2 linked regions of the Homo sapiens genome follow. The protein of the gene in region 2 interacts with the protein of the main gene of each other region in a pairwise test. Each region holds a gene or a part of one and is shown on either strand. Other genes may lie near its edges.

Region 1 (3,500 bases), on a different chromosome or scaffold from region 2:
CAGGGGAGAGCAGTGAAGAAGTAAGTATTCTGCATTCTATTTAGGCTATTCATTTAAGAAGTTTGGCAGTAAAAGAGAGAAGAAAATAACTAGAAGGGAAAGGCAATTTAAAAAATATTTTTCTCAAGGTATTAGAAATACATGTGTATTTAAAGACCACAAGAAGGGCCAGGCGCAGTGGCTCACGCCTGTAATCCCAGCACTTTGGGAGGCCAAGGCGTGCAGATCACTTGAGGTCAGGAGTTCAAGACCAGCCTGGCCAACATGGTGAAACCCTGTCTCTACTAAAAATACAAAAATTAGCCAAGTGTGGTAGTGTATGCCTGTAATCCCAGTTTCTAGGGAGGCTGAGGCAGGAGAATTGCTTGAACCCAGGGGATGGAGGTTTCAGTTAGCTAAGATCAGGCCACTGCACTCCAGCCTGGGTGACAGAGCAAGACGCTGTCTCAGAAAAAAAAAAATTAAAGACCGCAAGAAGAAAAAAAGGGTTTTTTTTTTTTCGATAGAAAAAATTAGATCTCTGATAGACGTCTTCAATTCTAATTTCAGTTGGTTTTGTTTTGTTTTGTTTTGTTGTGACTTGGGGTTCCGGCTGTGTTACCCAGACAGACTGTAGTGGCCATTCACAGGCGAGATCCCACTACAGATCAGAATGGAATTTTGACCCACTCTGTTTCTGACTTGGGCTGTTCACCCCTCCCTCCTTAGGCAACCCAGGAGTGGTTCCTCACTCCTGGGAGGTCACCACATTGATGCTGAACTTAGTACAGGCACCCAATTGGTATAGCATGCTCTAGCCCAGAACACTGGGTTCAAGCTGTTCCCCTACCTGCGCCTTTGGAGTGGCTGGGACTATGGTGTGTGCTGCCATGCCAGGCTGACTTAGTTTTTAAAAAAGGAAATAGGAACACAAGTTATTTTTCACATTAAAAAAAAATTAATACCATCACATAGAAGATGAAGAGAAAAAAATTTTAAAAATTGCTAACTTTAATTCTTAACCATGTTTTCTGCCTTCAAATCATGAAAAATCTAAGCATTAATCTCTGTTGAAACCCATGTTCATTCCTTGGATACTAATAAACTCCTTCATTTTCTTTCTAAAGACAAAAAACTTCTGGACTTTGTGAATCCAGCTGTCATTTTACACACACCTGCATACACACACACACAGCCACGCGTGCACACACACACACACTTTCCTATTAAAGAGAAATTACTAAAGGGGAAAGAGTGCTTGGTCTTTGGGAAGTTGAGACTAGAATTTATCTGATGTTCCTGCTTTCCTACATACAGCATGAAGAAGACTTTGAATTACGGAAAGAACTGATTGGACAGGTGATGAACCAGCTTGGACAGCAGCTTGTCAGCCAGCTGCTGCACACCTGCTGCTTTTGCCTCCCCCCCTATACCCTACCAGATGTGGCTGAAGTGCTCTGGGAGATCATGCAGGTTGACAGACCGGTAAGATTGTTTTCATGAGGAATTTATCTCATAGTCCCTAAATGTAATAGGCTTTGGTTCCTTAAGGCCAACCCTAATTTTGAAACTAGCCCTGTTTTCTGTCCATGGAACCAAATTTAGGCATATTGCCAAATTAGATTGGTAGATGAAGAGGCCCGTAAAGATCAGTAATTTATTATTGAGTTCTTTAAAGCATGTTTCTATGTCACTGTCATAGGGGGTATATTACCAGAAGTAAGTATCAAGCATTGAATTCAGTTGTGTGGCTGTCCAATGTGAAATTTGTTCACTTGTGAGAGATGCCCAAATGTCAGTTATATTAGTTACGTATTACTCAAGAAGTATTTAATCCTTTCAGACTTATTCTATAGCACTGTATTATTTCTTGGTGATACATCTAGCCAGAACATTTGGAAGCACATAATTGTCAAAGTAACCCACAATGTACAGTTGGATATATTTCCCCTTTGGATTTCTTTGAACCAGATCCTTTATCACCCACCTAAGGATGGAGTTGTTTTTTTAAAGCTATCTAATAATGCCCAAGTAATTTCAGTACTGGGCCACATGACCATAACTCAGGTTATGTGTACTGTGTGAAAGTTGAGTAGAATGGTAAAGTATAATATAACCTGAAATCATTTTTAAAATGGAATTTATAATTTTTAATATTACTGTAAAAGCAGTTCAGGAAAGTACTCATTGGGACCTAGTTAAAGTGAGCTGTCTTACAGAACCACAGAATATAAAATTGATAATAATAATATATAACAGATAGTACCTATTCCTCTCTGGTTCAATACACATGTTCCATTTCAACCTGATAGAGTAGCATATTTGTTTTTCTAAAGAAAAGTACTTTTTGAGCCTCCAGGAATCAGCAAATTTAATTCAAAAGTCCTTGACCTGAGGGAAAAAGTCTTCATACTCTGCTTAAACTTTTTTACAAATACATTTGGTTCCCAAGTAACAGAAAACTTATGTAAATCTAACTTTATGAAAACATTCTTGATTGTAAGCATATTGTTAAGTGCGAACAACAACAACAAAAAATGAGAACAAGAAGTTTGGACAGGAATAGAAACCAGGTAGCCATGTACTCTAAGGAGTGTACTGTATATCAGCCAGACACAATGGCTCATGCCTGTCTTCCCAATACTTTGGGAGACCAAGGCAGGAGGATCACTTGACGCCAGGAGCTTGAGACTACCAGCCTGGGCAACATAGACCCCATCCCTACAAAAAAAAAAAAAATTTTTTTTCTTTTTAATTAGCTGGGTGTGGTGGCATACATCTATAGTCCCAGCTACTCAGGAGGGTGAGGTAGGAGGATTGCTTAAGCCCAGGAGTTCCAGCCTGCAGTGAGCTATGATCATGCCACTGCACTCCAGTCTGAGCTGCATAGCAAGACCCTGTCTCAAAAAAGAAAAAGTTTGCTATATAACAACTATTATGTATTTTTAAGAATTAAGGAGCTGTTATGTATCCATAATTAAGAAATGCTTAGTACTTCATGAGCATTTATAATACTTTTGCTCTGGCCTATTATGGCCATAAATGAATATGATGGGAAAATATATAATGTAAAAAAAATTAGGTATAAAAGAGTAATTTTACAGCCCAAAACTATGACTGAAGTATACATTCCACTTAAGAAAGGGATGAAGAAATATTAGTGCTGACCCAAAGGACAACAATTAAACTGAAAATAAGAACCCAGAGGAAGTCTGTAGAATTTTTATTTTAGAAAGGAAGGAAGTAAAGGGAGTAGACAATTTTTGTGCATAGAAAAGGCATAAAGAGAATTCTTAGATATACTTATATAAAAAATATATAAGTAAATTAAACAGCAACAAGAGCAAGGTTTTTTAACACAAAGAACAGGCAGATATCACAAAGGAACTGAATGGATAGGACTTATTCTGAGAGAGATGGCCTTAAAATCCTTAAGATTCTGGACTCATATGTCTCATATGTATACTTTCTGACATGGTGGCTTAGTATACTTTTTGCCCCTGCTCTTTCAGGTATCTGAA
Region 2 (3,500 bases):
GATTATCAGGGTTTCTCCCTCCCTCCCTCCCTTCCTCCCTTCCTTCCTTCCTTCTTTTTTGAGATGGAGTCTCATTGCGAGGCCCAGGCTAGAGTGCAATAGCATGATCTTGGCTCAACCTCCACCTCCCCGGTTCAAAAGATTCTCCTGCCCCAGCCTCCTGAGTAGCTGGGACTATAGGTGCGCACCACCATGCCCAGCTAATTTTTTGTATCTTTAGTAGAGATGGAGTTTCACCATGTTGGCCAGGCTGGTCTTGAACTCCTGACCTCAAGTGATCTGCCCACCTTGGCCTCCCAAAGTGCTGGGATTACAGGGGTGAGCCACCACGACTGGCTATCAGGGTTTCAATTTAGGTTTTGCTGCTTATTTGTTATGTGAACTTGAGTAAGTTACTTCTTAATCTAATTATTTTATTGTTAAGTAATGATAACAGTAGGCTCCCTGTGAGAATTAAATAAACTTCTGTGTGGAGAGTGCTGGCACTCATTAGACACTCTGTACAGAGTAGCTATTATTATTATAGTTGTAGAGAAATGAGTCAGGGGAAAGTGGAAATAAAGTTTGAGCATTAAATGCTTTATTAGTTGAATGACACATATCCTACTTCATGAAATTCTGAAGATGATTTTAAAGTGAGTATGCTCTTTCTGCCACAATGGAGGTTATTGACCCAATGGTCATAGTCCTCTGAAATTTTAGTCCCAGTTGAGCACCAAGCATCCAATTAATTCCCTATAATTTTTTTCAAGAAGAAGGGGCTAAGGTAGTTATTTTATTATCATTCTAGTTCAGTGAGAGATTCAAAGACTAACGTTACCGAGTGAAGCAGCTACTTTAAAGCGGAGCTGGGTGATAATTTGTTTAAGATGAAGTCCTTCTCTCCTTTCTCCCTATACTTATAAAAAATGAAGCCCCCGTGCAAGCAGAAAGACTTACTTTCATGTCTAAGTGACATGAAGATACTTCTGGGAGCAGTCTACACCAACCTTAGATGGCTTCTATGCAAATTCTCTCATAGCAACATGTTTCATTTATATTCATTTATTTCTGCTTCCATTATTAGGAAAATCACAGTGCCTTCTGGGTATATCAGAACCTACCTGAAATTCACAAACTCTAAACAATGAATGCTCAACTCTGTTGTATGAAGTAGCCACAATTACCAACCTTCCTGCACAAATCAAACAAGAGATATCTTAAAATAGGAATGATGCTGAAACTCTACAGCTTTTGTGTGAAACACATAGAAGAAGAAAGTAAAACAGGACAAACTCCGTGGGCAGGTAACATTACCTCAGTGTTTATGGCATTTTTCTTTTTGGGCCGGTTGAACATGATCTTTGTGATGCCATCTTCGGAGGTCACCACCAGAGTTTCAAACCCAGTTGATTTCCTGTCTGTTCCAGGCTCCACCTGACTAGAGGATTCCAATGAAGGACTCAAACTGGACACCAAATCCACATAGTTCTGCCTGGCAGCTTCCTGAACGGACGATGACAAACAACCTCAGCCCATGGTCAATGAATAAGCACTTTGAGAAAGTTACTATACTAATAACTAACACCTTGCAATGAAGAAAGAATAGAAGCACATCAAGATCTTGAAGACTCCATTTACAATGGCTTAATGAGAAGCACAAACTTCTTTAGAAGTACAGCAAATAAAAGCACAGTAACTAGTAAACTCACCTTGGGCAGGCTGCCAAGGGCATTCCATGCGTCCCATTTGGCCTTGTTGATCAAGTCAAATACACCTGGTTTGGGCATGTTACAAGGTCCTTCAGTGGCCTGTGAAAAGGAGAGGGGCAATATGTTCAAATGTCCATGTAAACTAGACCCCTAAATATTTAAGATCCATAAAATCTGTAAGTACATGAATGCCTCCCCCAAATCCTTTCACAGGGTATGTAAATTGATCTGAATTTTCCCCTCCAGTCTCTTTGATGTTGTTGCCAAAAATGCACAAACAGAAAAAAGACTGGAAATAAATTATAACTGCCTGTCTATGAAAATAATGCAGGATAAAGGTTTTGGGGAAGTATTTTCTAAAAAAATCTAATGGTTCATTAGTTTTATATTGGTAATCACATTTTCCACAAACAATCAAAATATTCAAGCAAACAATCTTTACAAGGAACTAGTCAACAAATACTTGAAAACCCACAGCATATTCCAAAAGCCCATCTGAAGGTACAAAAAAAAACACCACTAATTCAGTGGTGGACTTTTGGTACCTGGGTAACAAAACTGTAGCTGAGGGGCTAGGGTGGGGCTATCAGAGCTACTGGTTCTTAGGAAACCTAACTGAAGAACATGTAAGTAAAAAGCAAAAAGGAATTAAATTTTATTTTTGAGGCTAGGTGGAGTGGGTGTTTTGAGATGAATAAAATATCCCACTCAGCTACTTTTCAGAAATAGCAATTTAAAATTCCAGTTAAAATTTTTAAAATTTTATAATACAGTTAGAGAGGAAAGAAGAAAGAGTCTTTGAAAAACAAGCCAGGTGTGGTGGCTCACACCTGTAATCTCAGCACTTTGGGAGGCTGAGGTGGGTGGATCACCTGAGGTCAGGAGTTCGAGACCAGCCTGACCAATATGGTAAAACCCCATCTCTACTAAAAATACAAAAATTAGCCAGGCATGGTGGCAGGTTCCTGTAATTCCAGCTGCTTGGGAGGCTGAGGCAGAAGGATTGCCTGAACCTGGGAGGCAGAGGTTGCAGTGAGCTGAGATGGTGCCGCTGCACTCTACCCTGCGTGACAGAGCAAAACTCTGTCTCAAAAAAACAAAATAAAAACAAAAGAAAAAAGAAAAAAGAAAAAGGCAGTAAAGGAGGTTATGAATTTCTTTAGACAGAGATAGTGTCATCTGGCAAGAGTTGGCCAACCTAGAAGTTAGAGGGAACACAGTCCACAGGATAAGGGCTTGCCTTTGTCTCCTGACTGTCCTCAATGCTAACACCAATTGCAAGGCTGGAGGGCACCCAGGACCACCCTCAAGTGCAACAATTTGCTAGAAAGACACCCAGAACTCACTGCAAGCTGTTAAACGCACAATTAATAGTTTATTAAGGGAAAGGATAGAGATTAGAATCATCCAAGGGAGGACACACACAGGATGGAGTCTGGGGCAGTAGCAAATGTGGAGTTTCCATTGTCCTTTCCCCATGGAGTCAGCATAGGGCACCTCTACCAGAATTGATGTGACAGTACACAGGGAGTCCTGCCAACCAGAGATGCTCAGCTCATCCAGTCTCGGTGTCCAGAGTTTTTAACAGGGCTCCATCACCTGTGCATGACTGTATAACCTGAAGCCCCCACCCTAAATCACATCGTTAAGACAATCCAGGCAAATAAAGACTCCTACCAGTCATTAGAGATTCACTTCCCAGAAGCTGAGGGCAAAGCCACACCTCTTCTGGGGCAAGGTTAAATTTTTTACTATACACACCCATATGAAAGAGAAGCTCATACCCATCATAGGACAGAAAAATAGATA

Evidence for each region.
Region 1: the proteins of ECI2 (region 2) and TNPO3 interact in binary tests that used the Homo sapiens proteins (3 or more experiments, as listed by UniProt).

What each region holds. Positions count from the first base shown.
Region 1 is NC_000007.14:128,968,112-128,971,611, reverse strand, and holds part of TNPO3 (transportin-3), read left to right. Parts: intron 1-1,296; coding exon 1,297-1,464; intron 1,465-3,500. UniProt on the Homo sapiens protein: Importin, which transports target proteins into the nucleus. Specifically mediates the nuclear import of splicing factor serine/arginine (SR) proteins, such as RBM4, SFRS1 and SFRS2, by recognizing phosphorylated SR domains.
Region 2 is NC_000006.12:4,129,076-4,132,575, forward strand, and holds part of ECI2 (enoyl-CoA delta isomerase 2), read right to left. Parts: intron 1,791-3,500; coding exon 1,692-1,790; intron 1,691-1,691; exon of another isoform or gene 1,486-1,690; coding exon 1,297-1,485; intron 1,287-1,296; exon of another isoform or gene 1,067-1,286; intron 1-1,066. UniProt on the Homo sapiens protein: Able to isomerize both 3-cis and 3-trans double bonds into the 2-trans form in a range of enoyl-CoA species. Has a preference for 3-trans substrates.